Linked DNA regions of Homo sapiens. The protein of the gene in region 1 interacts with the protein of each later gene in a pairwise test. Each region holds a gene or a part of one and is shown on either strand. Other genes may lie near its edges. The genes, in order: LTK and MTMR14.

Region 1 (14,972 bases):
CAGCACACCCCTGTAAGTGGTGGCCAGGGCTGCCGTGGCAAAATGAGCTGTCAACTTTAGGTTGACAGGGGTGTGGCCGCGACCGCAAGGGCTTTTGTTGCCGGGTGGACCCAACAGGGATGGGCTGCTGGGGACAGCTGCTGGTGTGGTTCGGAGCCGCGGGTAAGTGCTATCTGGCGGTCAGGGGACCGTCCAGCCTGAGGCACTTTCCTAGGCTTGGGGGTGGCCGGTCAACAGGCCAGGTGTCAGTGGTTCCTCCAGAGGCCTCGAACTCTCACAGCCAAATTTCTCCGGTCCGTGCTTCTGGAGTGCGGGCCGAGAAGCGCCAAGTGCGTGCGAATCCCAGAGTCTGGATCACGCAGCTTGGGAAGGAGGAACATTCTTTGGGGTCTCAGCACCGCCTTGGGGCGGGGCCACCAATCTAAGTTGAGGAAAGCATTGGGGAGGCTGCAGGACCAAATTCATTGCGGCCCCTAAGTTATTCACTGGGAAAGGCGCTCGAGGAGAGAAACTGGCAGACCTATCAGCGCGCACCCGCGGGGCTTCTGCGACCGGAGTCGGGTAGTGGCTTCCAGGCTGAGAGCGCGGCTGGGCCGGGTGACGGGTGTGGCCGCGACCGCAAGGGCAGCTGTTGCGGGGTTCTCTCTTTCTTTCATATCCTATTTCCACCCGCCTTAACGTCCTGCGCCTTCTCCCAACACCTTTCAGGCGCCATTCTCTGCTCTAGCCCGGGGTCCCAGGAGACTTTTCTGCGGTCCTCGCCCCTGCCGCTGGCAAGTCCCAGCCCCCGGGACCCGAAAGTCAGCGCCCCGCCTAGTATCTTGGAGCCAGCCTCCCCGCTGAATTCTCCGGGTGAGCTTTAGACGCCTCCTTCCTCTTTCGCTCACCATACCAGACCCCTCTGGCCCAGCCAGGGGCTCGACGACCCTTGCCTCGCTCCTTGCTCTCAGGCACCGAGGGGTCTTGGCTGTTTTCTACCTGCGGGGCCAGCGGCCGGCATGGGCCCACACAGACACAATGTGACGGGGCGTACGCGGGGACCAGCGTGGTGGTGACCGTGGGGGCCGCCGGGCAGCTGAGAGGCGTGCAGCTGTGGCGCGTGCCGGGCCCTGGCCAGTATCTGTAAGTGCACGGCGGAGGTAGGGTGGACAGTGACCTGCTAGTTGGAGGTTTCACCCTCAGGGTAACGAAGTCCACGTGCGCACCGACTTGCGTCTTGGACTATTCCGCGGGGAGGTCCACCTTGAGTGCCCTTCAAGGTGGCAGTAGTCGCCACCGAGTTAGCCCTTACCCGGAACCTCTTACACCGAGCGGAAGGCCCCCAACCAGGGCGGCGCCAAGGGGTGCTTGAGCCTCCCCACATTTCCACGAACCCTCCTGAAATAAGTGTAATATCTGATTTTTCGGTGTGCAAACCTACCCTTCCCATCCCGTCAGAGTCGATTGCAGCCTCCAAGTCCCTCAGATAAAAAATAATTCTGGAGCCTCCTCTGTCGCCAACTTCTGCCCGGAGCGGCCGGCCTGAGCACCGAAGGCCGGGGACTCACCGTCCGTTCCCCGCAGGATCTCAGCCTACGGAGCCGCGGGCGGCAAAGGCGCCAAGAACCACCTGTCGCGGGCGCATGGCGTCTTCGTCTCAGCAATCTTCTCCCTCGGTCTCGGGGAGTCGCTGTACATCCTGGTGGGGCAGCAGGGAGAGGACGCCTGTCCCGGAGTGAGCGCAGCCAGTGGGGATGGGGCGGCGCCGGCGCCGGGGGCGAGGGCTGCCTGGGGGCCGGGGGAGCGTGCTTTCCTCGGTGCCGGGTCACCAGCACAGCGAGGGGAGGCTCCCGGGCCCCGCCGATTCCCTCCCCCGCTGCCCGCAGGGTAGCCCGGAGAGCCAGCTCGTCTGCCTCGGGGAGTCTCGAGCCGTTGAAGAGCACGCGGCGATGGATGGGAGCGAAGGGGTCCCGGGGTCGCGGCGCTGGGCGGGAGGTGGCGGGGGTGGCGGGGGCGCCACCTACGTTTTCCGGGTACGTGCTCCCTTCGGCGCTCAGCGTTGGGGTCCCAATCCTCTCCCCAGGGGCGCTCACGCACCGGCTCTCCGTCCGTCCCTTGGGGTCCCCCTATCCCTGCGCTGGGCTGGGCTGGCCTGGGCTGGGCTGGGGGCCCCTGCCCTTATCCAGGCCCCCTGGGCGGGAGCCCTCTCCCAGTGGCAGTGCCCCTGGACAGCTGGAGGGCGCTTCCTGGAACACGCCGCTGGCCCCACAGGTGCGCGCTGGCGAGCTGGAACCGTTGCTGGTGGCGGCCGGAGGCGGCGGTCGGGCCTACCTGAGGCCGCGGGACCGAGGCCGGACTCAGGCCTCCCCCGAGAAACTGGAGAACCGCTCGGAGGCGCCCGGGAGCGGCGGGAGAGGCGGGGCGGCAGGTGAGGGCGCGGGCCGCGGGGAGAGGCGGGCGTGCTCCCCGTGTGGCTGCCAACCTTCCTGCTGTCGCTCTGCAGGTGGTGGGGGCGGCTGGACGTCGCGGGCTCCCTCTCCGCAGGCCGGCCGCTCACTGCAGGAGGGGGCGGAGGGCGGCCAGGGCTGCTCCGAGGCTTGGGCGACCCTTGGCTGGGCCGCGGCCGGCGGCTTCGGGGGCGGCGGCGGGGCCTGCACTGCGGGCGGAGGCGGCGGCGGCTACAGGGGTAGGTGCACCGTTGGAGAGGGCAGCTGAGCAGGCCCGAGGGTGAGGTGATGTTAGAACCTAAGTACAGGCCGGAGCCCTCGGGAGGATAGGTGTGGGAGAGGCATTAAGCCCTGCTCAGCAGCTCCAAACAAAAAGCAGGAGCTCTTAGAAAAGGAGGTCAAATACACTGCAAATCAGCATGCAGACAGGACTCCCTAGATTTCCGTTTAATCCAGGATCTTTCCCATCACAGCAGGTCCCTGCCTTGTTCTGCAGCAGTCTTCAGAACTTAGAGCTGGCCGAGTGAGCAAGCTGAGCAAAGGGGCAGAAAGGCAGGATTGGGTTAAGTCAGTGGTTCTCAAAGTGTGGTCCAGGAACAGGTAATATCCCCACAACCTAAGTTGTTCGAAATGCACATTATCAGCTGGGCCTGGTGGCTCACGCCTGTAATTCTAGCACTCTGGGAGGCCAAGGCAGGTGGATCACCTGAGGTCACCAGTTCGAGACCAGTCTGGCCAACCTGTGAAACCCTGTCTGTACTAAAAATACAAAAATTAGCCGGGCGTGGTGGCGGGAGCCTGTAATCCCAGCTACTCTGGAGGCTGAGGCAGGAGAATTGCTTGAACCTGGGAGGCGGAGGTTGCAGTGAGCCGAGATCACTCCATTGCACTTCAGCCTGGGCGACAAGAGGGAAATTCTGTCTCAAAGATTAAAAAAAAAACAATGGAAATTATCCTGGGAGTTGGGGGAAGGTTGGGGAGATGCTGGTCAAAACAATGCAAAATGGCAGTTAAATAGGAGGAATACCTTCCAGAATCTACTGTACTACATGGTGACTGTAGTTAATGACGATGTATTCTTGAAAATCGCTAAGAGAGGCGGGGCGCGGTGGCTCACGCCTGTAATCTCAACACTTTGGGCGGCGGAGGCGGGTGGATCTTGAGGTCAGGAGTTTGAGGCCAGCCTGGCCAATATGGTGAAACCCCCATCTGTACTAAAAATACAAAAATTAGCCGGGCGTGGTGGCATATGCCTGTAGTCCCAGCTACTCGGGAAGCTGAGACAGGAAAATCGCTTGAACCCGGGAGGCGGAGGTTGCAGTGAGCCAAGATCGTGCCACTGCACTCCAGCCTGGGTGACAGAGCAAGACTCTGTCTCAAAAAAAAAGAAAAGAAAATTGGTAAGAGCGTAGATTATAGGTGTTCTTACCACAGAAAATAAGCATGTGAGGTGGTGTATATATTGGTTTGCATTAGCCATTGCACAGTGTGTACATATTTCAAAACATCATGCTGTATACAATAAATATATGAATTTTTTTTTTAGATGGAGTCTGGCTCTGTTGCCCAGGCTGGAGTGCAGTAGTACAAATCTCAGCTCACTGCAACCTCCGCCTCCCGGGTTCAAGCAATTCTCCTGCCTCAGCCTCCTGAGTAGCTGGGATTATAGGCATGCGCCACCATGCCCGGCTAATTTTTGTATTTTTAGTAGAGATGGGGTTTCACCATGTTGGTCAGGCTAGTCTCGGACTCCTGACCTCGTAATCCGCCCATGTCGGCCTCCCAAAGTGCTGGGATTACAGGCGTGAGCCACCACACCTGGCCCTGAATTTTTATTTTTAATTAAAAATTAATTTTTAAAAAGAAATGCGAATTCTCAGCCCTTCTCTAACATACTGAATCAGAAACTGTAAGGGAGAGTCCCAGTCATCTGTGTTTTGATCAAATAACTAGTGTAAATGCCTTTGTGCCTGTCTGGGCTGTACTGCTCATACATACACACATGATCTACATTCTCACAGAAAGGGACTGTGAGGACATGGGACAGGAGGGGCTCAGGCAGGCAGGAGGCATCCCAGCCAGCCTCAGCGAGGCCTTCAGGCTCCAGCTGATTACCCCCTCCTCACCTCCTTCACTCCCACTTGTGAACAGACAGCATTTGCATCATGATGCTGGAGAAGAGAGGGCCACACTGGGATTTCCACCGGGAGATTCCAGCTTCTCCCCCATCCCCCATTTTTGTAGTCAAACTCTCCATCACTCTCCACTTCCAGGGGGCGACGCTTCAGAGACTGACAACCTCTGGGCTGATGGGGAAGATGGAGTATCCTTCATACACCCCAGCAGCGAGCTCTTCCTGCAGCCTCTGGCAGGTATTGGCCCCAACCCCACCTCTGAGCCTGGCCTGGACTTCTTCCGCAGTCCCTGAGCCCACTCCTGCACTGCACTGAAGAGCCACCTGCACTGTGAATAACCTTGCATAGCACAGGATTCTTGCATAGCATAGGGTCATTTGAAAAGTGGGCTGTCATCATGCCATTGCACTCCAGCCTGGGCGACAAGAGCAAAACTCTGTCTTAAAAAAAAGGAAAGTGGGCTGCCAGTCGTGCTGGATGGCAATGCAGGGCATGCTGCGTGCTTTTCAAGTACCCCCTTGCTATGAATTCGCTTCAAATACCTGGGAGTGTGCAGGCTTGACAGAAGTCCCCCAGCTTCTCTCACCACCCTTGTAAGCTTGGTGCTGCTCTTTGCTCTAAAGTCCTGGGCTAGAATTAACCATGTGGCTGGAAAAGGCATGTATTTATTTATTTATTTATTTATTTATTTATTTATTTATTTTTATTTTTGAGACAGAGTCTCGCTCTGTCACCCAGGCTGGAGTGCAGTGGTGCGATCTTGGGTCACTGCAACCTCCGCCTCCCGGGTTCAAGTGATTCTGCAGCCTCAGTGCTGGAGTAGCTGGGATTGCAGGCGTGCGCCACCACACCCGGCTAATTTTGTATTTTTAGTAGAGGCGGGGTTGGCCAGGCTGGTCTTGAACTTCTGACCTCCGGTGATCCGCTCACCACGGCCTCCCAAAGTGCAATGATTATAGGCGTGTGCCACTGTACCCAGCCAAAGGCATGTATTTACTATATCCCAGCCCTACCACACCATATCATATCAGTTCTTTTACTCACAGTCACCGAGAACCACGGAGAGGTAGAGATCCGAAGGCACCTCAACTGCAGTCACTGCCCTTTGAGAGACTGCCAATGGCAGGCAGAGCTCCAGCTGGCTGAATGCCTGTGCCCAGAAGGCATGGAGCTAGCTGTGGATAACGTCACCTGCATGGGTATGTCCTACCTTTGCCCAAGGTCTGGACTCCTGGGGTCACAGACTGGGAGGAGCAGTAGGCCACTGGGAAAGATGGTATAGAGATTTGCTGTGTGCCAGGCCCTGTGGTGGGTGCTGGGCAGGGGATTGGAGATTCATCGGTGCACAGTGCCTTTCAGAGGCCTGTCGTCCAGTGTGGGAGGATGTTTAGATATAGCTATGTAAATGTATATCTCAAGTGACGATTGTTGTGGGAGGTATAAAGTGCTTTAGGGGTGTTCAAGAGGGAGAGGTTGCTTTTGCCCAGGATAATGGGGGAAGGCATCATGGAAAAATTAACACTTGAGCTGAGTCTTGAAGCGTGGGTAAAACTTGAGGGTAAAGGAACAGAGAAGACCTTCCCACTGGAGGTGTCTCTCTTTCTCCCTAGACCTGCACAAGCCCCCAGGCCCTCTGGTTCTGATGGTGGCTGTGGTGGCAACCTCAACACTGAGCCTCCTTATGGTGTGTGGGGTCCTGATTCTGGGTACGAAGCGTCTAGCAGGCACAGTTGATTCAAGGCTGCTCCTCTCCAGTGAGCTGGGATGGGTTTCTGCGGGGTCCCGGGGCTGACTTCAAGACCACTCACCGCAGCAGAGCCGTGGTAGACTCCTCTGGGATTCTAAGATAGGAAGGAGCTGGGGAGGCCTGGGGAAAACGTTTACCTTAATGAGCATCTGGAGGGGTGTCCTGGGCAGGTGGGGGAGGGAGAGTTGATGGGCAGGTGGAGGGTGTGCCGTTATTCTTCCCACCCCCAGTGAAGCAGAAGAAGTGGCAGGGCCTGCAGGAGATGAGGCTGCCGAGCCCTGAGCTTGAGCTGAGCAAGCTTCGAACCTCTGCCATCAGGACAGCCCCCAATCCCTATTATTGCCAGGTGGGGCTTGGCCCGGCCCAGTCCTGGCCTCTGCCACCAGGTGTCACCGAGGTTTCCCCAGCCAATGTTACTCTGCTCAGGTAAGTCTTCTGCCTCCTTCTGAGAACCTATGCACTCTGAATCCCCACCTCTGATTCTCTCCCTGCTGTAGTGAATTATAAGTCCCAGAAAAAATCTGGCCCACATCCCTTGTGTAAGGGAGAGGGAGGCCCTGAGAAGCTCCAGAAGGGGAAGTAACTTGCTCAATGTCACCTCTCCGTCCCAGTTCTTAGAATATGATCTCTCAGCTGGGCGTGGTGGCTCACACCTGTAATCCCAGAACTTTGGGAGGTCGAGGCAGGCAGGTCACCTGAGGTCGGGAGTTCGAGACCAGCCTGACCAACATGGAGAAACCCCATCTCTACTAAAAATACAAAATTAGCTGGGCATGGTGGCGCATGCCTGTAATCCCAGCTACGTGGGAGGCTGAGGCAGAAGAATCACTTGAACCTGGGAGGCGGAGGTTGTGGTGAGCCGAGATTGCGCCATTGCACTCCAGCCAGGGCGACAGAGTGAGACTCTGTCTCAATAAAAAAAAAATATGATCTGGCGCCTGTAATCTCAGCACTTTGGGAGGCCAAGGCAGGTGGATCACCTGAGGTCAGGGGTTCGAGACCAGCCTGGCCAACATGGTGAAACCCTGTGTCTACTAAAAACACAAAAAATAGCTGGGCGTTGTGGCGCTTGCCTGTAGTCCCAGCTACTCGGGAGACTGAGGCAGGAGAATCACTTGAACCCGAGAGGCAGAGGTTGCAGTGAGCCGAGATCGCGCTATTGCACTCCAGCCTGCATGACAGAGTGAGACTTCGTTTAAAAAAGAAAAAAAATCATGACTCTTGGAGCCCAGGGATTGCCTCCCGCCCAGGGCGTCTGCAGGGACCAGGGAAGTCCTCATCATGCACTCCCACCTTGACTCTGGCCCGCATCTGCCCTCTTTTTTGCCCTGGCTCTATGCCAGTGAGCACCACCCTTGCAGGGCTTCTACCTGGGGACATGCCATGGTATGGAGAGAGTCTATATAGGGTCAGCTGGGCATATGGCAGGGGCAGGGGAGGTAAAGGGGGTACTAGACTCTCTAGGACTCTTCTCCAGGCCGCCTGCCCACTCCCTTCCAACGTGTCTTCCTGCAGAGCCCTGGGCCATGGTGCCTTTGGGGAGGTGTATGAGGGACTGGTAATTGGCCTTCCTGGGGACTCCAGTCCCCTGCAGGTAGCTATCAAGGTGAGAGGAGTGGGACTTCTGGCTGGGGGTAGGAGAGCGGAACACCCTGAAGGGAAGGACAATGACTAGAGCTAGGGTTAACCCCCTCTCCTGAAGCGTGCAGGGCAGCTCAGAAACTGTGCCCTTTTCCTCCCCAGACCCTGCCAGAACTCTGCTCGCCTCAGGATGAGCTGGATTTCCTCATGGAGGCCCTCATCATCAGGTGCACCTGGGACCAGGGGCAGGGCTGGAAGGCGGGAGGGGAATGCCCGGGAACAGTTTCTCTTCACCCTGAGGCTGAGGTAGCAAGTCAGGGGACACAGAGGGCCTCTCCAGCTTTGTGGAGCCTAAAACATGGTTTCCGTCTCCCTCCTGGTAACGGGATATGTCCCCCACCCCACTCAGCAAGTTTCGCCATCAGAACATTGTGCGGTGTGTGGGGCTCAGCCTCAGGGCCACCCCTCGCCTCATTCTGCTGGAACTGATGTCTGGAGGGGACATGAAGAGTTTCCTGAGGCACAGTCGGCCACACCTGGTGAGACCCTTGTCTTAGCCCCCCCAGGCCCCTCTAAAGACCCTGTCCATGTGTCTGAGACCTACATGGACTGATGCCCCCTCTGCCTGACCCAGGGCCAGCCATCACCTCTGGTCATGCGGGACCTGCTGCAACTGGCCCAGGACATAGCCCAGGGCTGCCACTACCTGGAGGAAAATCACTTCATCCACAGGTTAGGAGCAGTCCTGGCTCAGGGGACCCCCATCCCAACTCCCTCCCCAAGGAACAGCCCTTCCACACAGCTTTTAAGGAAATAGATCAGGAAGAGCAAGAACTTCTAGATTCTGGCAGTGATTTTTTTTGCCTACTCTGTAGGGATATTGCCGCCCGGAACTGCCTGCTGAGCTGCGCTGGACCCAGCCGAGTGGCCAAGATTGGGGACTTTGGGATGGCACGAGATATCTACCGGTGCGGGACTTGGGAGGTGGGAAGGCTCTTGCTCCAAGGGGGTTTTCCCCGCACCTTGGTGGTGAACAACTCATCATTCACCTCCTCCCTCCTGTAGGGCCAGTTATTACCGCAGGGGGGACCGGGCCTTGCTCCCAGTCAAGTGGATGCCCCCAGAGGCCTTCCTGGAGGGCATCTTCACATCCAAGACAGATTCCTGGTGATAACACCCTTCCCCTCCCCTTCCCCACTGTTCCCCTCCCCTGAGGCTAATCCTGTCCTTTCCAGCCACCTCATGTGAGGGGAGGCTACACCTGACGGGCCTCACTTGGTTCCCCCACTTGTGATGCAGGTCTTTTGGGGTGCTGCTCTGGGAGATCTTCTCACTGGGCTACATGCCCTATCCTGGGCGCACCAACCAGGAGGTGCTGGACTTCGTCGTTGGAGGAGGCCGGATGGACCCTCCTAGGGGCTGCCCAGGGCCTGTGTGAGTTGAGTGCTGCCCGGGAAGGGAGGTCCTTCACAACCATGGGTGGGCATGAACTCCTGCCTCTCCCCAGGTACCGCATCATGACCCAGTGTTGGCAGCACGAGCCTGAGCTCCGCCCTAGCTTTGCCAGCATCTTGGAGCGTCTGCAGTACTGCACTCAGGTGTGCCCCCGACCTAATCTAACATCCTGGTCTTGTGGGTCAGGAGGGAGGGCCAGAAAACTCTATGCCCCCCTGCTCCCTGACTCTTCCATTACAGGACCCGGATGTGCTGAATTCACTCCTGCCAATGGAGCTGGGGCCCACCCCAGAGGAGGAAGGGACTTCTGGGCTGGGGAACAGATCTTTGGAGTGCCTAAGACCCCCACAGCCCCAGGAACTGAGTCCAGAGAAGTTGAAAAGCTGGGGAGGTAGCCCTCTTGGCCCCTGGCTGTCCTCTGGCCTCAAGCCCCTCAAATCCAGGGGCCTCCAACCTCAGAACCTTTGGAATCCCACTTATCGCTCCTGAGCCCCAAGGGGCCCTGAGGGTAAGGACTGAGGCACTGAGGGTCCCTCCCTATACTCCTCAGGCTCCTGGGTGGCCTGTTATGCCAGCGGCCTCTGTTCCCTGCAGTCTGTGCTGTGTGTCTGGGCCTGTCTCGGGGCTGGCCTGGCAGCGCTGCACTTGCCATGCTGGAAACCAGCCCAGGCCTCCCAGGGAAGGGCCCAGCCACTTCCAGCTTTTGATCTTGGGGCCAGAGGCCGCCTTACACACACCCCAGGTGTCCATGGGGAGCACTGGATTGCTCTCCCATTATGAGCATCCTTCATCTGGGCAGACCCCCCACCCTGCAGATGCTTCTAATAAAAAGCTCTTCTCATCCTCCAGCGATCTGTGGATGCCAGGGACCGGAACTGAGGAAGAGGGGGCCGGAGGAGGGAGGGGCTGAGGCCTGAGGCACAGGAAGCTGCATCTTGTCTTTGAGTTTTATTAGGAAGGGGAGTCCGTCGTGGTGTGAGACGTTAGACCGGAAGGTCTGGGCTTGCTAAATAAAATCCGCGGTCTGGCACCTCTGGAGAGGGCAGAGCCTCCTCAGAAGAGCTGGCCTGAGGAAGAAGCCCTTTGCCCCCTCCCCTTCTATAAGTTAGTGTCATTTGGCTCTGGGAACGCTGGGGCCCGGGTGGGCAAAACCCCTGGCATCGGCGGTGCCCCCCCTTAGTGGCTGGCACCTGGTCCTGCAGGACCCGGTGAACTGCCCTGCACCGCGGGGCTCCAGTCTCAAGCCGGCATGCACAGTGGGGACAAAGCTGCAGGTCCACATGTCAGGTGAGCGGCCCGCGGGGACAGGAGTCCAGCCTCATCTCTCAGCCAGGCTGGCCAGGATGCCAATGAGATTGTCCAGCCCCAGCAAATAGCCGTCCTCGCGGTTGCCCTCCTCCCAGGGCCGCCGGTGGTCCAGGATCTGGCCATCGGGGAGGGGCGTGGTCTTGCCGAAGTCGATGAGCCACACGCCGGCGCGATGGCAGTGATCGTGCACAAAGAGGAGCGAGCTGCCGATCACCTGCGAGCCCCGCACCGTCAGGCCGCGGCCCTGCCCAGAGACGCCCTTGCCGGGTTCCCGCCCTAGCCCTCGCGGCCCGGGCACCCGGGCAGCCGCCGCTTACCTCGTGCCTCCTGAAGAACTCGGATACCTCCAGGGTGTCCCGGATCTGCTGCAGGCGGTTCAGATACCGCCTCTGCAGAGGGTGGGGTGGGAGAGGAGGGCAAATTAACTAAACGCCAAATGAGCCCCTGCTAACGATGAGGAGCCGGGACCCACGCTGTGCTTGGCAAATGCCGCCAGGAGGAGGACCCAGGGCCCCGCCCAGCGTGGCCCAGAAGGGAAGGAGCGTAGAGCAGTTGCGAGCCAGCGCGGTGAGGGCCATGGTGGGGACACAGCCGAGGGCACTGGGCCAGATGACAGGGGCAGTCCTCGGCTTCAGGCTCCCCAACACCTCAGGGTTTGGGATCCCGCTCTCACCAGCACTTCCTCATCTCCTTGCACAAACTCTTCAAAGACGCGAAGCACCTGCTCTCGGCTTCGCGTAGTCTTGAAGTCGGTGCTGCAGGAGCCGTCCGCTTTCTGGATGTGGGACAGGAGTGTCAGGGGCCCCGGGCCCGCCAGTGGGGAAGAGGACAGCGTAGAGCAGCGGTACCTCCCAGTTGCAGGGGACGGCGAGGCGGTGGGAGAGGGCGGAGGGGCAGGCGGGGCGGGAGCGGGGGATCGGGAAAGACAGCGCGCAGTGGGGCTGCGGCGGTGCCAGCGAAGCGCGCCTGCCTCACCTTGATGCCCTCGATGCGGAAGCCGAGGGTGGTGCTGGAGCTGATGCCTTCCCGCCACTGCATGTAGCGCGGCTTGGTGACGGCGCGCTGCGCGTGCTCCTCCTCCGTGGGAGCTTCAGGATCCACCGCCAGCATTTTCTTGTACATGTCCTTCCGCAGCTTGGGCCGCTCACGGGCCTTGGTCAGCTCCTCCTCTAGGTAAGTCCTGTGGGGGCGCAGGCAGCGGCCAGGGCATGAGGGGGCGCACACGGAGACCCCTTCGAGCACTCGCCCCGGGTCCCCCTCAAGCAGCTGTCCCGGCCCCGGACCCCTACTTGATCCCCCCAACCGACCTGGCAGGGCACGCATACCTGACGCCCATTTTGCAGTCGAGCACACAAGGTCCGTCGAAGCCATCGAGCAGGTCCTGCAGCTGCAGGTAGCTTTCGCCGTCGCGCTCCACCACGCCGTGGAAGGCAGGCACGCAGCCGCGCAGCGCGTCAGCCATCAGCCGCGCCAGGCAGTAGCGCTCCGGCTCCGAGCAGCGCTTCAGGATCAGCCCGCTGGTGCCCGCCGCCTTAAAACTCCCTGAGGACCGGCATCCGTCAGCGCCGCCCAGCCCCTTCCCGTCGCGGGCACCCGCCCACCCGCCCCACTGCTCACCAGTGTGCCCTGCCAGCTGCACCCAGGCGTAGCGCTTCTTGAAAGGGCTTATGACCGGCAGATTGACCATGGTCCGGATCTTCTGCCAGTGGTTTTTCTGAAAGCGACAGGGTCAAGGTCTGATAATCGGCGTCTCGGCAATGCATAAGCCCTCCCTCCACTGAAACAGGGTCTCGCCACGCCCCCGACCCACCGGAAGCAGCTGGGGCTGGATGAGTCATTAATTCATTCATTCACTCTGGGAAGGTTTATTTGTGCGCCTGTGTGGCGGGTGCTGATACAGGCGCAGTGAAGGTGATTCCAGCGTCTCCAGTGAGCTGTCAAGAGCCTGGACTTAGCATCTGAAGCCCCCGGTTTGCGCTCCAGCTCTGCCACTGAAGAACGCGTGGGCAGGTTACGAAAATGCTCTGTCGAGGTTTTTGAACTGTTGTGAACATCGGAATTACCTGATGGTCACCCTTGTTAAAAATTGCAGATTATCAGGCCTACCGCAGGGATGTTCTAAGTTGGTCTAGAGTAGGGCCATTTTTTTTTTTTTTTTTTTTTTTTTTCAGATGGAGTCTTGCTCTGTCACCCAGGCTGGAGTGCAGTGGCGCGATCTGGCCTCACTGCAACCTCTACCTCCCGGGTTCAGGCGGTTCTCTTGTTTCAGCCTCCCGAGTAGCTGAGACTACAGGTGCACACCACTATGCCCGGCTAATTTTTTGTATTTTTAGTAGAGACAGGGTTTCACCATATTGGTCAGGCTGGTCTCCAACTCCTGATCTCAGGTGTTCCACCCACCTCAGCCTCCCAAACTGCTGGGATTACAGGTGTGAGCCACCAGGCCCGGCCCCCCAAATTTTTATTACTACCAATGCCTCAAAAGATTCCAGGGCCCAAGAAACAAGCCTCTGTGCATCTGTAAGAAAAAGATCTATAAAATGAGGAAATAACTATCCTTACTGGGTTGCTGTGAGTAGTACATAAGGCTTAAGCATGATAGGCGCCCAGCTCCCCCATCCCATTCCATGGTATGAGGCAGAAGCTGAACAAATCTCAATCACTGATTCCTTCACTCAGGACCTTGGTTCCTCTCATTTAGGGAGACAGACATACACAGAAACAAACCTGTACACAGGCCCAGGGCAGGAAGGCCAGCCTGGCAGGGCCTGGAGAAAGAACAGGGCTGGAGAAAGAAAAGGCTCTCCAAGCCTCTCTTGCTATCCCTGGATTCTATGCACTCATTAGCTGGCAAGGCCCAGGGCACCCTTGGTTTTTATCTGGACCTAGAAATCTTAAGCCATGAAAATAAGATGCCGGGCTGGGCGAGGTGGCTCATGCCTGTAATCCCAGCACTTTGGGAGACTGAGGTGGGCGGATCACAAGGTCAAGAGATCAAGACCATCCTAGCCAACATGGTGAAACCCCGTCTCTACTAAAAATACAAAAATTAGCCGGACATGGTGGCATGCGCCTGTGGTCCCAGCTACTTGGGAGGCTGAGGCAGGAGAATCGCTTGAATCTGGGAGGTGGAGGTTGCAGTGAGCTGTGATCGAGCCACTGCACTCTAGCCTGGCAGCAGAGTGAGACTCCGTCTCAAAAAAAAGAAAAAGAAAGAAAATAAGGTGCAAACCTGAGGGCCTGTCAACTTAGACAAACCTGGGAAGGAGACGAGGGTTGTTTTTTGTTTTTTGTTTTTTGTTTTTGTTTTTTTGGTGTGCCCCTTATCTCTTCTAGCCTCCAGCTAATCTTGAGAGCATCCCATCCTCTGGACCTCTCCTCTTACCACCCGCAACTCGGCAGCCCTGTGTCCTCTCTGAAGTACACAGGTTGGCTCATGTCAACTGTGTCTGCCGCCTCCCCACAGAGGCACTTGCCTTTTAGCACAGTTACACATGTTGTACCCCCAGAGGAATACACCTCCCTGACAAGAGGGAGTTCTAAGAGGGAGAGAGAGAACTGAGGAGGTGGCCTAAGTAGAAGAGGGCTGCTGACCATAAAGCCCTTTCCCATGGGGAGGAGATGGAAGTTATGGTAGAGCACTGGGTGGGAAGTCAGTAGTTGGTTCCAGTCATGGCTGTGTCACCTTCCAGCTGAGTGAACCCAACCAAGTACTGCCATCTGTGTGGGCCTGTTTCCCCTGGGAGGACATAGCTGCTGCCGTAACACGAACCATCAAATGCTACCTGCCTATTGCATGTCAGGCACTTTCTCATCTTCCATCAGGCAGCATTGCTCCCACTTTCCTACTGAAGCCCTTACATGGCACACTAGGGTGTGATCACGTGCCCAATCCCCAGGGATCTGGGGGTGTAGCCAGAAGCAGCCCACTAGAAGCATGACATCACTTTCAAAACTCCTTTTAAAATCTTTAAATACACACCAGGTTTGCATTCTGCTGCATAATAAATCCAAGTTTTATTATAAAACTCACCACCTCCAAACCCTCAAGTAAAATTCCAGGAAGATGATGTATGTGCCATGTATATTCAGCAGCACCATCCTGTACCCCCTTCTCCCACACTCAGTTTGAGAGCCATAATGAATGCACATGCATAGCAAGTGCGTGAAGTGGTATCATTCCCATTTTACAGAAGGAAATCAAGGGGAGTTACATCCCCTCATGCCCTGCCTCCAGCCTCCCAATCTCTGGCTGAAGCTATCAGCCCATCCTCCCTCCCCAAGTTCCAACTGCCCCAGCAGGTTCCAAAGTATCCCCAG
Region 2 (15,097 bases), on another chromosome or scaffold:
TGCTGCCTAGATGGAACTGATTTATCAAGATAGGGGATCCGGGTGCAGTGGTTCATGCCTGTAATCCCAGCACTTTGGGAGGCTGAGGCAGGCAAATCACCTGAGGTCGGAAGTTCGAGACCAGCCTAACCAACATGGAGAAACCCTGTCTCTACTAAAAATACAAAATTAGCCGGGCGTGGTGGCAAATGCCTGTAATCCCAGCTACTCGGGAGGCTGAGGCGGGAGAATAGCTTGAACCCAGGAGGCGGAGGTTGTGGTGAGCCAAGATCGCGCCATTGCACACCAGCCTGGGCAACAACAGTGAAACTCCGTAGGCTGGGCGCACTGGCTCACACCTGTGATCCCAGCACTTTGGGAGGCCGAGGTGGGCGGATCACGAGGTCAGGAGATCGAGACCATCCTGGCTAACATGGTGAAACCCCGTCTCTACTAAAAATACAAAAAAAAATTAGCCAGGTGTGGTGGCAGGCACCTGTAGTCCCAACTACTCGGGAGGCTGAGGCAGGAGAATGGCGTGAACCCGGGAGGCGGAGCTTGCAGTGAGCGGGGATCGCGCCACTGCACTCCAGCCTGGGCGGCAGAGCGAGACTCCGTCTCAAAAAAAAAAAAAAAAAAAAAGAGTGAAACTCCGCCTCAAGAAAAAAAAAAGGGAACTGCGGAAAGAATAATTCACACAGAGGCTGCTGTGCGGGAGAACATAGTTTTATTATTACTCAAATCAGCTCCCTAAGCATTCTGGGATCAGAGTGTTTAAGGACAACTTGGTAGGTGGGGAAAACCAGTGAGCCAGGAGCGCTGATTGGTCAGGTCAGAGATGAACTCATAGGGAGTCTTCTTGTGCTGAGTAATTTCCTGGGTGGGGGCCACAAGGTCAGATAAGCTAGTTTATCGATCTGGGTGGTACCAGCTGATCCATCAAGTGCAGGGTCTGCAAAGTATCTCAAACACTGGTCTTAGGTTTACAATAGTGATATCCCCAGGAGCAATTTGGGGAAGGTCAGAGTCTTGTAGCCTCCAGCTGCATCACTCCTAAACCATAACTTCTAATCTTAGGGCTAATTTATTAAGTCCTACAATGGCAGTCTAGTCCCCAGGCAAGAAGGGGGTTTGTTTCAGGAAAGGGCTGTTATCATCTTTGTTTTAAACTATAAACTATAAACTAAGTTCCTCCCAAAGTTAGTTCAGCCTATGCCCAGGAGTGAATAAGGCCAGCTTAGAGGTTAAAAGCAAGATGGGGGGCAAGGACTTCATGACTAAAACACCAAAAGCAATGGCAGCAAAAGCCAACATAGACAAATGGGATCTAATTAAACTAAAGAGCTTCTCCACAGCAAAATAAACTATCATCAGAGTGAACAGGCAACCTAGAGAATGGGAGAAAAGTTGTGCAATCTATCCATCTGACAAAGGGCTAATATCCAGAATCTACAAAGAACTTAAACAAATTTACAAGAAAAAAACAAACAACCCCATCAAAAAGTGGGCAAAGGAGATGAACAGACACTTCTCAAAAGAAAACATTTATGCAGCCAACAGACATGAAAAAATGCTCATCATCACTGGCCATCAGAGAAATGCAAATTGAAACCACCATGAGATACCATCTCACGTCAGTTAGAATGGCGGTCATTAAAAAGTCAGGAAACAACGGATGCTGGAGAGAATGTGGAGAAATAGGAATGCTTTTACACTGTTGGTGGGAGTGTAAATTAGTTCAACCACTGTAGAAGACAGTGTGGCGATCCCTCAAGGATCTAGAACTAGAAATACCATTTGACCCAGCAATCACATTACTGGGTATATACCCAAAGGATTATAAATCATGCTACTATGAAGACACATGCACATGTATGTTTATTAAGGCACTATTCACAATAGCAAAGACTTGGAACCAACCCAAATGTCCATCAATAATAGACTGGATAAAGAAAATGTGGCACATATACACCATTAAATTCTATGCAGCCATTAAAAAGGATGAGTTAATGTTCTTTGCAGGGACATGGATGAAGCTGGAAACCATCATTTTCAGCAAAATATCACAAGGACAGAAAACCAACACTGCATGTTCTCACTCATAAGTGGGAGCTGAACAATGAGAACACATGGACACAGGAAGGGGAACATCACACACTGGGGCCTGTTGTGGGGTGGGTGGCTGGGAAAGGGATAGCATTAGGAGAAATACCTAATGTAAATGACGAGTTGATGGGTGCAGCAAAACAACATGGCACTTGTATACCTATGTAACAAACCTGCATGTTGTGCACATGTACCCTAGATCTTAGAGTGTAATAATAAAAAAATTAAAAAAAAAAAAAAAGAAGCAAGATGGAGTTGGTTAGGTCAAATCTCTTTCACTGTCTGTTACAATTTTGTAACGGCGATTTCAAAAGAACTCATGTCCAGAATATTCAAACCTCTTCTATAAATTTGTAATAAAAATACAGACAACCCACTAGAAAAATGGGCAAAAGATGTTAACAAGCACTACCCAAGAGCATATTCAAATGAGCAATAAATATGCGAAAAGGTGATCAACTTCATTAATCAGGGAAATGCAAATTAAAACCAAAATTAGCTACGCTTAAAGAAGCTAGACACAGAATACACAGGGTATAATTCCATTTATAGGAAGGCTAGTGACAGAAAATAAATCAGTTGTTGCCTGGGGCTGGGGGTAGGGGTGGAAAGGACTGAGATGGGACTCAAGGGAACTTTCTGGAGGTGATATATATGTTCAACATCTTAATTACACTGGTGATTTTATAATTTGGCAATGCCCATCAAAATGTACAATTAAAGAGGATTAATTTTATTCTATGTACTCATACCTCAATAAAATTGATTTTTTAAAAGCACAATAGAGCTGGGCACATAGTCTAAAAGCACAAGTAGAGCAGTGGCTCATACTTGTAACCCTAGCACTTTGGGAGGCTGAGGTGGGAGGTTCACTTGAGCCCAGGAGTTCAAGATCAGACTGGGCAACATAGCAAGACCTTGTCTCTACAGATAATTAAAAAATTAGTTGGGTGCGGTGGCACATGTCTGTGGTTCCAGCTACTCAGGAAGCTCAGGTGGGAGAATTGCTTGGGCCCAGGGGTGAAGGCTGCAGTGAGCCGTGATCAAACCACTGCACTCCAGCCTGGGGGAGAGAGCAAGCCCCTGTCTCAACAACAACAACAACAACAACAACAACAACAACGAAAGCACAATAAGATACCACTACATTCTTCCAAAGTATAAACTAGTATGAGGAAAAAAACAAAAGAAATACCAGTACATTCTCACCAGAAAAACTAAAATAAAAAAAAGTATTGACAAGGATGCAGAGCAACTGGAACTCTGCTGACTTGCAGGAGGCAATGTAAATGTCACGGGAAAACTCTTAGAAAGTTACACTTTGACCATTGTCAAAAGACAGAATTGCAACTTAAACATCTTAATTGGCTTTATTTTTATTTTATTTTATTATTTTTTTTGAGTTGGAGTCTCCTTCTGTCACCCAGACCGGAGTGCAGTGGCATGATCTCTGCTCACTGCAACCTCTGCCTCCTGGGTTCAAGTGATTCTCCTGCCTCAGCCTCCCGAGTAGCTGGGATTACAGGCATTCGCCACCATGCCCGGCTAATTTTTTTTTGAGACAAAGTCTCGCTCTTGTCCCCCAGGCTGGAGTGCAATGGCGTGATCTCAGCTCACTGCAACCTCTGCCTCCCAGGTTCAAGGGATTTTCCTGCCTCGGTCCCACAGGTAGCTGGGATTACAGGTGCCTGCCACCACGCCCAGCTAATATTTATATTTTTAGTAGAGACGGGGTTTCACCATGTTGGGCAGGCTGGTCTAGAACTCCTGACCTCAGGTGATCCAACCATCTTGGCCTCCCAAAGTGCTGGGATTACAGGCGTGAGCCACTGCGCCCGGCCTAATTTTGTATTTTTAGTAGAGATGGGGTTTCTCCACATCGGTCAGGCTGGTCTTGAACTCCCGACCTCAGGTGATCCGCCCGCATCCGCCTCCCTAAGTGCTGGGATTACGGGTGTGAGCCATTGCGTTTATAAACAGATAAGGGCTGAAGAAAGCACAAACAACACAAAGTGGATTGGTCATTTCTTTTTTTTTTTTTTTTTTGAGACGGAGTCTTGCTTTGTCACCCACGCTGGAGTGCAGTGGCGCCATCCTAGCTCACTGCAAGCTCCACCTCCGGGGTTCACGCCATTCTCCTGCCTCCGCCTTCCGAGTAGCTGGGACTACAGGCGCCCGCCACCACACCCAGCTGTTTTTTTGTATTTTTTTTTTTTTAGTAGAGATGGTGTTTCACCATGTTAGCCAGGATGGTCTTGATCTCCTGACCTCGTGATCCGCCCGCCTCGGCCTTCCAAAGTGCTGGGATTACAAGCGTGAGCCACCACGCCCGGCCGGATTGGTCATTTCAAAGTAACTTTCCCTGTAGGGCAGGAACAAGGAAACAGAACAATAGAAAAATAACGGATTGGGCCAGACGCCGTGGCTCATGCCTGTAATCCTACCACTTTGGGAGGCTGAGGTGGGTGGATCATCTGAGGTCAGGAGTTTGAGACCAGTCTGGTCAACATGGCGAAACCCCGTCTCTGCTAAAAATACAAAAAAATTAGCCGGGTGTGTTGGCGCACACCTGTAATCCCAGCTACTCTGGAAACTGAGACAGGAGAATTGCTCGAACCCGGGAGGTAGAGGTTACAGTGAGCCGAGATGGCACCACTGCACCACTGCACTCCAGCCTGGGTGACAGAACAGCGGGAACTCGTCTCAAAAAAAAAGAAGAAGAAGAAGAAGAAAAATAATGGATTGATTAACATCAGGTTACTTTTGTTGTAAGGATTAAGGGCAGAGGAAAGTTCATTATCATGCTTATTGAAAGTGGCCTGTTTGGGGAATATCTATTATCTCTCTGGATTTCTCTGAAGGTCAGATAATTTAGTTTCAGCTTGGTAAGATGTAAGTTTAGTAGGAATTACTCCATTTTGGTTCTTAGTCTTGTTTGTTAGGATCTAGTGCGGGTGCTTTGTCCAAAATAATGGCCTATAATTTTTTTCTTTTTTTTTTTTTTTTTTAAGGCAGAGTCTCAAGAGTCTCGCTCTGTCACCCAGACTGGAGTACAGTTTCATGATCACAGCTCATTGCAGCCTCAACCTCCCTGGCTCAAGGGATCCTCTCCCACCTCAGCCTCCCAAGTAGCCTCTCAATGTGCGCCACCACACCTGGTTGATTTTCTTGTAGAGATGGGGGTCTCACCGTGTTGCCCAGGCTCGTCTCGAACTCCTGGGCTCAGGTAATCAGTTTACCTTGGCCTTCCAAAGTGCTGGGATTACAGGCATGAGCCACCATGCCCGGCCTGTAATTTTTCTTTAACACCATATAATCCAGTCATTTCATTCCTTGGTGTTTAAGACAAATGCGTATATAGATTTGTCAGAAAATATCTAGTAGGCCAGGAGTAGTGGCTCAAACCTGTAATCCCAGCACTTTGGGTGGCAGACGTGGGAGGATTGCTTGAGCCCAGGAGTTTGAGACTCGCCTGGACAACATGGTGAGACTCGGTATCTACAAAAAAATTTAAAAAGTAGCTGGGTGTGGTGGCACATGCCTGTAGTCACAGCTACTTGGGAGGCTGAGGCAGGAGGATTGCTTGAGGCCAGTAGTTGGAGGCTGCAGTGAGCCACGATCATGCCACTGTACTCCAGCTTAGGCAACAAGAGTGAAACCGTTTCTAAAAAAAAAAAAAAAAAAAAAATTAAATTAAATTAAAAACCAATCTACCGTATTAAAACTCTAGAAGCCAGGATAGTGATTAACTGGGGGTGGGAGGAGTTGGGGGGGCAGGGTGGTGGGTGGTTGTTGGTGAGTGGGTAGTGACTGAAAGTGGTCAGGAGGAGGGTTCCGGGGCGCTGGTGTACATATCATACTTCTATTAAAAGTTTAACAAAAACGAATTACTTTCATTCAGACTGGGTATTAGACCACATTAAGGAATATTGTTAATTTTCTTAGGCATGTTAATAGCCTTATATTTTTTATGTATTTTTTTTTTGAAGTACAAATCTGTTGTGATAAATGCTTAAGTATTCACAGCTGAAATAATGTGATGTCTGGGATTTGCTTTAAAATAATTCCCTGGATGGGAAGGGACTGCTTAAACAGGATAGATAAGCAGATGTTGATTATTGTTCAAAACCAGTTAATGGGTACATGAGGGTTCATTATACTATTGTCTCCACTTTTGCGAATGTCTGAAATATTCTAATAATAATAATAATGAGAGGCTTCTCATCACAGAATTTCAAGGCAGTCGCTTCACCTCCCTGACTCCCAGTTTCTACCTCAATAAAATAGGGCTGATGATATAATGCACTGTACTCACAGGGATGTTGTGAGCAGCAGGGGGAGAAAGGGTTTTATGAAATGTTGTGTTTTTGTTTTTGTTTTAGAGACGGAGTCTCATTCTGTCACCCAGGCTGGAGTGCAGTGGCGCGATCTCGGCTCACTCTCCGCCTCCCGGGTTCAAGCAATTCTCCTGCCTCAGCCTCCCGAGTAGCTGGGATTACAGGCACCTGCCACCACGCGCGGCTAATTTTTGTATTTTTAGTAGAGACGGGGTTTCACTGCGTTGATCAGGCTGGTCTCGAATGCCTCACTTCATAATCCGCCTGCCTCGGCCTACCAAAGTGCTGGGATTACAGGCGTGAGACACCGCGGCCGGCTGAAATGTTTTAATATTGGTAACCACTGCCATTATGGTTTCTAGTACTAATTTGTTGCCTCCAAGCGTTCTCTCCTCCTCGCCCTGTAATTTTTTTTTTTTCTTAAGACAGAGTATTGCTCTGTCACCCAGGCTGGAGTGTAGTGGTTCGATTTCGGCTCATTGCAACCTCAGCCTCATGGGTTCAAGCGATTCTCCTGCCTCAGCCTCCCAAGTAGTTGGGATTACAGGTGGGTGTCACCATGCCCGGCTAATTTTTTTATTTTTAGTAGAGATGCGGTTTCACCATTTTGGCAGCCTGGTCTCGAACTCTTGGCCTCAAGTGATCCGCCCGCCTCGGCCCCCCAAAGTGCTGGGATGACAGGTGTGAGCCACCACGCTCGGCTTCCCTGTAATTGTTGATTCCACTTTTCCTCTGGTTCTTTTCAATGGTTCCTTCCTGCTACCCCCCTCCCCCGGCAGCCCAATGGTTGAGCCCGGCTTCCCCGGGGGAAACCCCTTGGGGCGGATCACGCGGTATCAGCCAGTGGCCTCCCTGGTGGATAGAAGGATCGCTCTGCGCCGGGGGCGGGCCAGTAATCGTAGGCGGGGCGCGGGTCCAGAGCTCCGATTGGCCAGAGTCGGAGTAAACATCCGGCGGGACGGGGCGGGGCCGGAAGTGGAAGTGGAAGTAGAAGGCGGTGGCTGAGGCGGTTCCGGAGGTTCTAGTGTCGGAGTTGGGTGCAGGCAGGTGCCATGGGCCCGCTTGAGGCACACTGAGGGGACGCGGGGCTGGGCCATGGCCGGCGCTCGGGCCGCCGCCGCCGCTGCCTCGGCGGGGTCCTCGGCCTCTTCAGGCAACCAGCCGCCTCAGGAGCTGGGGCTTGGGGAGCTGCTGGAGGAGTTCTCCCGGACTCAGTACCGGGCCAAGGATGGCAGCGGGACCGGCGGCTCTAAGGTGAGATTGGAGGTGCGATGAGCTGGGGAAGGCTCCTAACTTGGGAAGTTACAGAGGAAAGGCTGAGGCCAGGGGTCAGAAAAAGGTAGGAGTGGTACCTCGCCGCTGAGGAAGAGGAGAGAGAGAGAGGAGTTCTCCAGGGTCTGTATCCGGAGTATAAGAGTCGGTCTTGACAACCATAAAAGGAGGAACTGGGGTCAGAATGAGCCCAGCAAAGAGGTCCTTCTTGTTTGAGAAGGGGTCTGGAGGTGAGAGATCAAGCTGAGGGGCCAGGTTCAAAGATCAGAGAGGAGGACCTAAGGAAGGTCTATTCCCTGCTTCAGGTGCCGTAGGATGAGTTGTGTCAGGGAAAAAGCCCCAAGAAAAAGCTAAGAAAAATAGGGAGACGATTCCTCGGGGTCAGAGGTCAGAATGGAGCCAGGAGGTGAACCCAGTGTGCTGCCCCCTTATAAGGTCTCAGCATGACTTAGGCCCATCCCTTTCCTTCCCCTATAGAGCAGGAAGACAACCCACACTCCCTTTCAGTTCCTTTATCTAAAGCAGGTCTCCGTTCCTCTTTTTGCTCCCTTTGGGATTTCCACCCAGTCGTCTTATCGCCAGACCTGGAGGGCTTCCTGTCAGCTCAGGCCATCCCCACCCTAAGCACTGGCTGGCAGTGCGGTGGGAATCTTGCCGACCCTGCCATCTCATTCCCCCACGTGGTTTTGGCAGCTTTAGCACCAAGTTTTCCAGTGGAATTCTGTTCCATCCTGCACCACAGAACTCTGATTTGACCTCAGAGATTACCGTGAGTTGCTATTCTGTAGTTGGCATCTTGTAGTCTCTGAAGTAACCCAGGGAAGACTTCAGTAAGGATTGGACTTCCTCACTCTCCAAATGGCCAAGTAATTTTTCCAAGTATAGTCTGGGGACCACCTGTTTAATGATCATCTGGGGTACTTTTAAAATTTGTGCTTATGGGATACTTTGTGAAAACAGAGATTCCTTAGTCCCACCCAGTCCTACCAAGTCAGAATTTCTGGGGGTGGGATCCTGGAATTTGCTTTTTTTTTTTTTTTCTTTTGAGAAGGAGTCTCGCTTTGTCGCCTAGGCTGGAGTGCAGTGGCGCAATCTCAGCTTACTGCATCCTCCGCCTCCCCAGTTCAAGCAATTCTCCCTGCCTCAACTTCCCAAGTAGCTGGGATTACAGGACCCCACCACCACGCCCAGCTAATTATTGTAGTTTTTAGTAGAGATGGAGTTTCCCCAGGTTGGCCAGGCTGGTCTTGAACTCCTGAGCTCAGGTGATCCGCCTACCTCAGCCTCCCAAAGTGCTGGGATACAGGCGTGAGCCACCGCGCCTGGCTTTTTTGTTTGTTTGTTTTTGTTTTTTGTGTTGAGACAGGGTCTCGCTCTGCTGCCCAGGCTGGATTGCAGTGGTGCAACCATGACTTACTGCAGCCTCGAAATCCTGGGTTTGAGCGATCCTCCCACTTAAGCCTGCCAAGCACCTGGGACCACAGGTACACACCACCATGCCTGGCTAATTTTTCTTTATTTTCCTAGAGACATGGTCTCGCTATATTGCCCTGGCTGGTCTCAAACTCCTAAGCTCAAGCAATCCTCCCACCTCAGCCCCCCAAAATGCTGGGATTACAGGCGTGAGCCGCCACACCTGGCCAGTAAGGGTCTTTTGAGTGGCTGTAGGTCATTGGTTTTTCTGGACCCCTCTTCCAACTTACATGACCCTGAAGATTAGGGTTAGCATAAGTTACACCTCATATTGGCTGCGGCTGGCCTTAATTATCTCTCCAGGCCTTCTGATCTCCTGCAAACTTAGATGTATATATATTTATATGTATTTATAACAATTCAGGCAGAACAGGGAGTTAGATCTGTAACTGAACAATCGATTGAGATAACTCACTACCTTTGGACTAACTTCTTGCAAACTTTTTTTTTCAGAAGGAGTCTCCCTCTGTCACCCAGGCTGGAGTGCAGTGGTGCGATCTTGGCTCGCTGCAACTTCCACCTCCTGGATTCAAGCGATCCTCCTGCTTCAGCCTCCCTAGTAGCTGGGACTACAGGCATGCACCATCATGCCTGGCTAATTTTTTTTTTTTTTTTTGAGATGGCGTCTCACTCTGTCGCCCAGGCTGGAATGCAATGGCGTGATCTCGGCTCACTGCAACCTCCGCCTCCTGGGTTCAAGCGATTCTCCTGCTTCAGCCTCCCCAGTAGGTGGGAGTACAGGCGCCCGCCACCATGCCCAGCTAATTTTTATATTTTTAATAGAGATGGGGTTTCACCATGTTGGCCAGGATTATCTCAATCTCTTGAACTCGTGATCTGCCCGCCTTGGCCTCCCAAACTGCTGGGATTACAGGCATGAGCCACTGCACCCAGCCTAATTTTTGTATTTTTAGTAGAGAAAGGGTTTCACCTGTTGGCCAGGCTGGTCTCAAGCTCCTGATCAGAAGTGATCTGCCCTCCTCGGTGCCTCCCAAAGTGCTGGGATTATAGGCGTGAGCCACCATGCCTGGCCCTCTTGCAAACTTCTTGATGTTACAGTTCTTATGCCTTTTTTCTGTTGTGTTTTTCTCTGAACTGTGATCAAAATAAGTAATTTTAGGGGGAGCTGTTTCTTCTATTTCACCAGCAAGTTGTGTATAAAGAGACTTTGCAGCTTTTACTGGTTGCATGGAATAGAGCTTGTAGGTACTAGTCTATGGCTAAAGAATGGGGAAGAGGGCCAGTACACTGGCTCACGCGTGTAATCCTAGCACTTTGGGAGGCCAAGGCAGGTAGACTGCTTCAGCCCAGGAGTTCGAGAGCAGCCTGGAAACATGAACCCCATCTCTATTAAAAATTTTTTGTTGGCTGGGCGTGGTGGCTCACCCAGGAGGCAGAGGTTGCAGTGAGCAGAGATCACACCATTGCACTCTAGCCTGGGTGACAGAGCAAGACTCTTTCTCAAAAAAAAAAAAAAGGAATGGGGAAGAGGCCAGGCATGGTGGCTCACACCTGGGAGGCTGAGGCGGGCGGATCACTTGAGATCAGGAGTTCAAGACCAGCCTGGCCAGCATGGTGAAACCCCATCTCTACTAAAAATATGAAAATTAGCCAAATATGCTCACTTGAACCCAGGAGGCTGAGGTTGCAGTGAGCTGAGATCGTGCCACTGCACTCCAGCTTGGATGACAGAGTGAGACTGTGTCTTTTAAAAAAATAAAGGCCGGGTGCCGTGGCTCACGCCTGTAATCCCAGCACTTGGGGAGGCCGAGGTGGGCGGGTCACCTGAGGTCAGGAGTTTGAAACTAGCCTGGCCAACATGGTGAAACCCCTGTCTCTACTAAAAATAGAAAAATTAGTCAGGCGTGGTTCTACGCACCTGTAATCCCAGCTACTCGGGGTGAGACAGGAGAATCGCTTGAACCCCGGACGCGGAGGCTGCAGTGAGCTGAGATTGCCCCACTGCACTGCAGCCTGGGCGACAGAGCGAGACTCCGTCTCAAAAAATAAATAAGAGAATGGGGAAGCTGACCAATGAAGGTAGTGGATTAGTGGCAGTTTCAGTAACCTGGACCAAGAGTTCTTATGTTTTATGGGTTGTAGACCTCTTTGAATCTAATGAAAGCTGTAATCGTCTCCCCCAAATGCTCAATACCCACAATTTCAGATTCATTGTTAGGGGTTTAAGAATCCTTCCTGAAGTATACAATATATGGGTTAATGGACTACACGTAGGACCTGTGGCCTAGCATCACATCTTCCCAGCACAGAATAATTATCACCCAGGTACATGTCTTTCCCAGTGACCTCTTAGGCCATGGACCTCCTAATTCTCACCCTCAGAACCCCAGAATTCTCTTTGTGTTCTGGTCTCCTTCTCTGTGCAGGTTGAGCGCATTGAGAAGAGATGTCTGGAGCTGTTTGGCCGAGACTACTGTTTCAGCGTGATTCCAAACACGAATGGGGATATCTGTGGCCACTATCCCCGGCACATCGTGTTCCTGGAGTATGAGAGTTCTGAGAAGGAGAAAGACACGTGAGCATCATGTGACCGTAGTGTACATGTCTGGGGAGTCCGTGGCAGCTAATCCCTGTGGCCAGGAAGTCTGTAGCTGGGCAGGGCAGAATCACTTTCCCCAGGTGTTAATCCTTATTGGCATTTTTATTTACTTCAAGGTTGGACAAGTCAGACTGGCAAGGTGGCATGGCATAGAATGAGGGGTTGGGAGTAACAGCCCTTGATTGCTGTTTCACTTCCACCCTAGAGCTCATTGTCCTAAGATAGCTGACTTCACACTTCACTTCTCTGAATATCAGTGTCCCTTTTTTAGAGAGTGTGAGTGGGAGGTACACTGTGTAAAGACAGGCTTACCAGCGTTTACCGTATGTAGCACTTGAGAGCCTAAGGTCTAGAGTCAGACTGCTAGAGTCAGACTGTCTAGAGTTCACATCCTGGATTCCCCTGTTGCTGGCTGTGTAACTGATGCTGGGCAAGTTACTTAACTGCTTTGTCCTTAGTTTTCTTATTGGTAATTCTCTACCTCATGTTAATTAGTCCTTTTAAGGACTAACTAAAATTTTAGAAAGTGGTAGTGCAGTCCAGATGATAAATGGGGCTGATAAAAGCCTGACATGTACGTTGTAAGAATTAGAAATAAAAGCTACCATTTATGGTGGGCCTACCAAGACCTGAGTACCTTATGTGGGTTAACAGTTTATACCAGAGCAGACACAGAATGCTTGGTGCAGGTTGTGGCCTGTAGGTAGTCAGTAAATGGTATAGTTATTTGATACTGATAAGTAATCACAGCATGAGGCTCTAGGAAGTGGTATATGTTGATCTCAAAGTTTGCTCTCCTAATCTCCCTACTTCCTGCTGATTTTAAGGGAATTTCAGGAGCCGTTGTCAGCACTATCTGTGAAATCCTGGCCCCGTGGGTGAAATGTTGTGAGGAGTACCGCAGCAGTCATGCTGCATAGTGCAGTAGCCCCTTGCTACTCAAAGCAGGGCTAGCAGTGCATTCAATAACTTGTTAGAAACGCAGAAGCTCATGCTCCAGAGCCACTGAGCCAGAATCACAGCAGAACAGGGTGTCCAGGTGATTCGAATGCACTACCAGGTTTGAGAAGTGCTGCCGTAGGCCAACTGGGGAAATGGTTAATTCTGCCTTGTGTTTATGTGCCTGGGAAGAACTGGAATTGGAAGGATGAGCAGGAGTTTCCCTGAAAATGTCCTTAGGGATCAACTCATATAGGATCTTGATCATCAGGCCAGGGAGTGTGAACCTGTGGGTTGTGTGTGGGTATCAGTGGTTTTATTGTGCTAGGAACCCCTAAGCACTTACTAAGATTATGGATTCTCGGCCTGGCCTAGTGGCTCATGCCTGTAATCCCAGCCTCCTTTGGGTGGATCACCTGAGGTCAGGAGTTTGAGACCAGCCTGGCCAACATGGTGAAACCCCATCCCTACTAAAATTACAAAAACTAGCTGGGCGTGGTGGTGGGCTCCTGTAATCCCAGCTACTCGGGTGGCTGAGGCAGGAGAATCGCTTGAACCCAGGAGGTGGAGGTTGCAGTGAGCCGAGATTGCACCACTGCACTCCAGCCTGGGCAACAGAGCAAGAGCAAGACTCTATCTCAAAAAAAAGATGACAGATTCTAGAACCTCTCCTGGGCCTTCTGGAATCAGAATTTCCAGTCTACATTCTGTGAGAGCTCCCTTGATGTCTTTTTTTTTTTTTTTTTTTTGAGACAGAGTGCTCTGTCACCCAGGCTGGAGTGCAGTGGCACGATCTTGGCTCACTGCAACCTCTGCCTCCCGGGTTCAAGCAATTCTCCTGCCTCAGCCTCCTGAGTAGCTGGGATTACAGGCGCCCGCCACCACGCCCAGCTACTTTTTTTGTATTTTTAGTAGAGACAGGGTTTCACCACGTTGGTCAGGCTGGTCTCGAACCCCTGACCTCATGATCCAGCCGCCTCGGCCTCCCTAAGTGCTGGGATTATAGGTGTGAGCCAGCACACCCGGCCTCTTGATGTCTTAAATACACTATAGCTTGAGAACCGCTGCTGCAGGCCATGGGGAGCCAGAGAAGGTTTACAGCAGAGGAACAATCCAGTAGGAGGAGTTTAAGCACTAAGCCTTAGTTTCCTCATCTGTAAAGTGGGGATGTCTATAAGAGTGCCCATCTTGGCCGGGCGTGCTGGCTCACACCTGTAATCCCAGCACTTTGAGAGTCCAAGATCATGAGGTCAGGAGATTGAGACCATCCTGGCCAACATGGTGAAACCCCGTATCTACTAAATATACAAAAATTAGCTGGGTGTGGTGGCGCACGCCTGTAATCCCAGCTACTCGGGAGGCTGAGGCAGGAGAATCACTTGAACCCAGGAGGCGGAGACTGCACTGAGCCAAGATCGAACCACTGCATTCCAGCCTGGCGACAGGGTGAGACTCCATCTCAAAAAAATAAAAAAAAAAGAGTGCCCATTTCACAAGGTTGTAGTGGGGTTCTCCAAGAAAAGAGTGTTAAGGGCTCTTGTAAATAGATCACAGAAACAGTATTACATCCTCAGTTATATAACCTAAGAACTTGGGATCGCCAAGCCTAAAGAATTGGGGTTTGTTATGGCCCTGTTATTTATGGTTCTTAGCTCTTCCTTAATTCCTCCTTCCAGAATTAGGTAAGCTTAGTTTCTTTTTTTTTTTAAGACAGAATCTTGCTCTGTTGCCCAGGCTGGAGTGCAGTGGTGCCATCTTGGCTCACTGTAACCTCTGCCTCCCAGGCTCTAGCGATCCTTGTGCATCAGCCTCCCAAGTAGCTGGAATTACAGGTGTGTGGCACCACACCTGGCTAGTTCTTGAATTTTAGTAGAGATGGGTTTTGCCATGATGGCCAGGCTAGTCTCAACTCCTGGGCTCAAACAATCCGCCTGCCATGGCCTCCCAAAGTGCTGGATTACAGGTGTGAGCCACCGCGCCCAGCTGGGTAAACTTAGTTTCCGTAAATCTTTAAGCTAAAGTTTCTGAACAAGAGGGTTTTGTTTTGTTTTGTTTTCTTTGTTTTTGCCTTGCCATTCTCTTCGTTCCCCTTCTTCCTACCCTCTTTGGTGCTGGCTGGCTGGTGGTTTTACCTCTGTGCCCTGATGATGACATTCTGATATTAAGCTCAGCTGTAATCAAGGTGGGTTTTTTTGTTTTTGTTTTTGTTTTTAATTAAGACGGGGTCTGGAATGCAGTGGCACAATCATGGCTTGCTGCGGCCTTGATCCCCTGGGCTCAAGTGATTCTCCCACCTCAGCCTCCCAAGTAGCTGGGAATATGGGCACATACCACCACTCCCAGCTGATTTTTTTTAATTTTTAGTAGAGACCAGGTCTCGCTGCATTGCCCAGGTGGGTCTCCTGAGCTCAACAGATTTCCTCACCTCGGC

What was found.
Region 2: the proteins of LTK (region 1) and MTMR14 interact in a two-hybrid assay, tested with the Homo sapiens proteins (one study listed by BioGRID and IntAct).

What each region holds. Positions count from the first base shown.
Region 1 is NC_000015.10:41,498,857-41,513,828, reverse strand, and holds LTK (leukocyte tyrosine kinase receptor isoform 1 precursor), read left to right. Parts: upstream 1-1; 5' UTR 2-119; coding exon 120-162; intron 163-708; coding exon 709-852; intron 853-950; coding exon 951-1,122; intron 1,123-1,563; coding exon 1,564-1,714; intron 1,715-1,865; coding exon 1,866-2,012; intron 2,013-2,250; coding exon 2,251-2,407; intron 2,408-2,420; exon of another isoform or gene 2,421-2,482; coding exon 2,483-2,665; intron 2,666-4,699; coding exon 4,700-4,798; intron 4,799-5,592; coding exon of another isoform or gene 5,593-5,607; coding exon 5,608-5,760; intron 5,761-6,171; coding exon 6,172-6,267; coding exon of another isoform or gene 6,268-6,315; intron 6,316-6,365; exon of another isoform or gene 6,366-6,384; intron 6,385-6,538; coding exon 6,539-6,734; intron 6,735-7,823; coding exon 7,824-7,914; intron 7,915-8,051; coding exon 8,052-8,116; intron 8,117-8,298; coding exon 8,299-8,428; intron 8,429-8,523; coding exon 8,524-8,621; intron 8,622-8,764; coding exon 8,765-8,857; intron 8,858-8,954; coding exon 8,955-9,056; and 8 more. Other genes in the region: ITPKA (inositol-trisphosphate 3-kinase A), read right to left, coding at 10,663-10,866, 10,970-11,041, 11,326-11,427, 11,628-11,832, 11,978-12,194, 12,270-12,366. UniProt on the Homo sapiens protein: Receptor with a tyrosine-protein kinase activity. Following activation by ALKAL1 or ALKAL2 ligands at the cell surface, transduces an extracellular signal into an intracellular response.
Region 2 is NC_000003.12:9,642,067-9,657,163, forward strand, and holds the start of MTMR14 (phosphatidylinositol-3,5-bisphosphate 3-phosphatase MTMR14), read left to right. Parts: upstream 1-7,438; 5' UTR 7,439-7,517; coding exon 7,518-7,676; intron 7,677-8,261; coding exon of another isoform or gene 8,262-8,463; intron 8,464-11,554; coding exon 11,555-11,703; intron 11,704-15,097. UniProt on the Homo sapiens protein: Lipid phosphatase that specifically dephosphorylates the D-3 position of phosphatidylinositol 3-phosphate and phosphatidylinositol 3,5-bisphosphate, generating phosphatidylinositol and phosphatidylinositol 5-phosphate.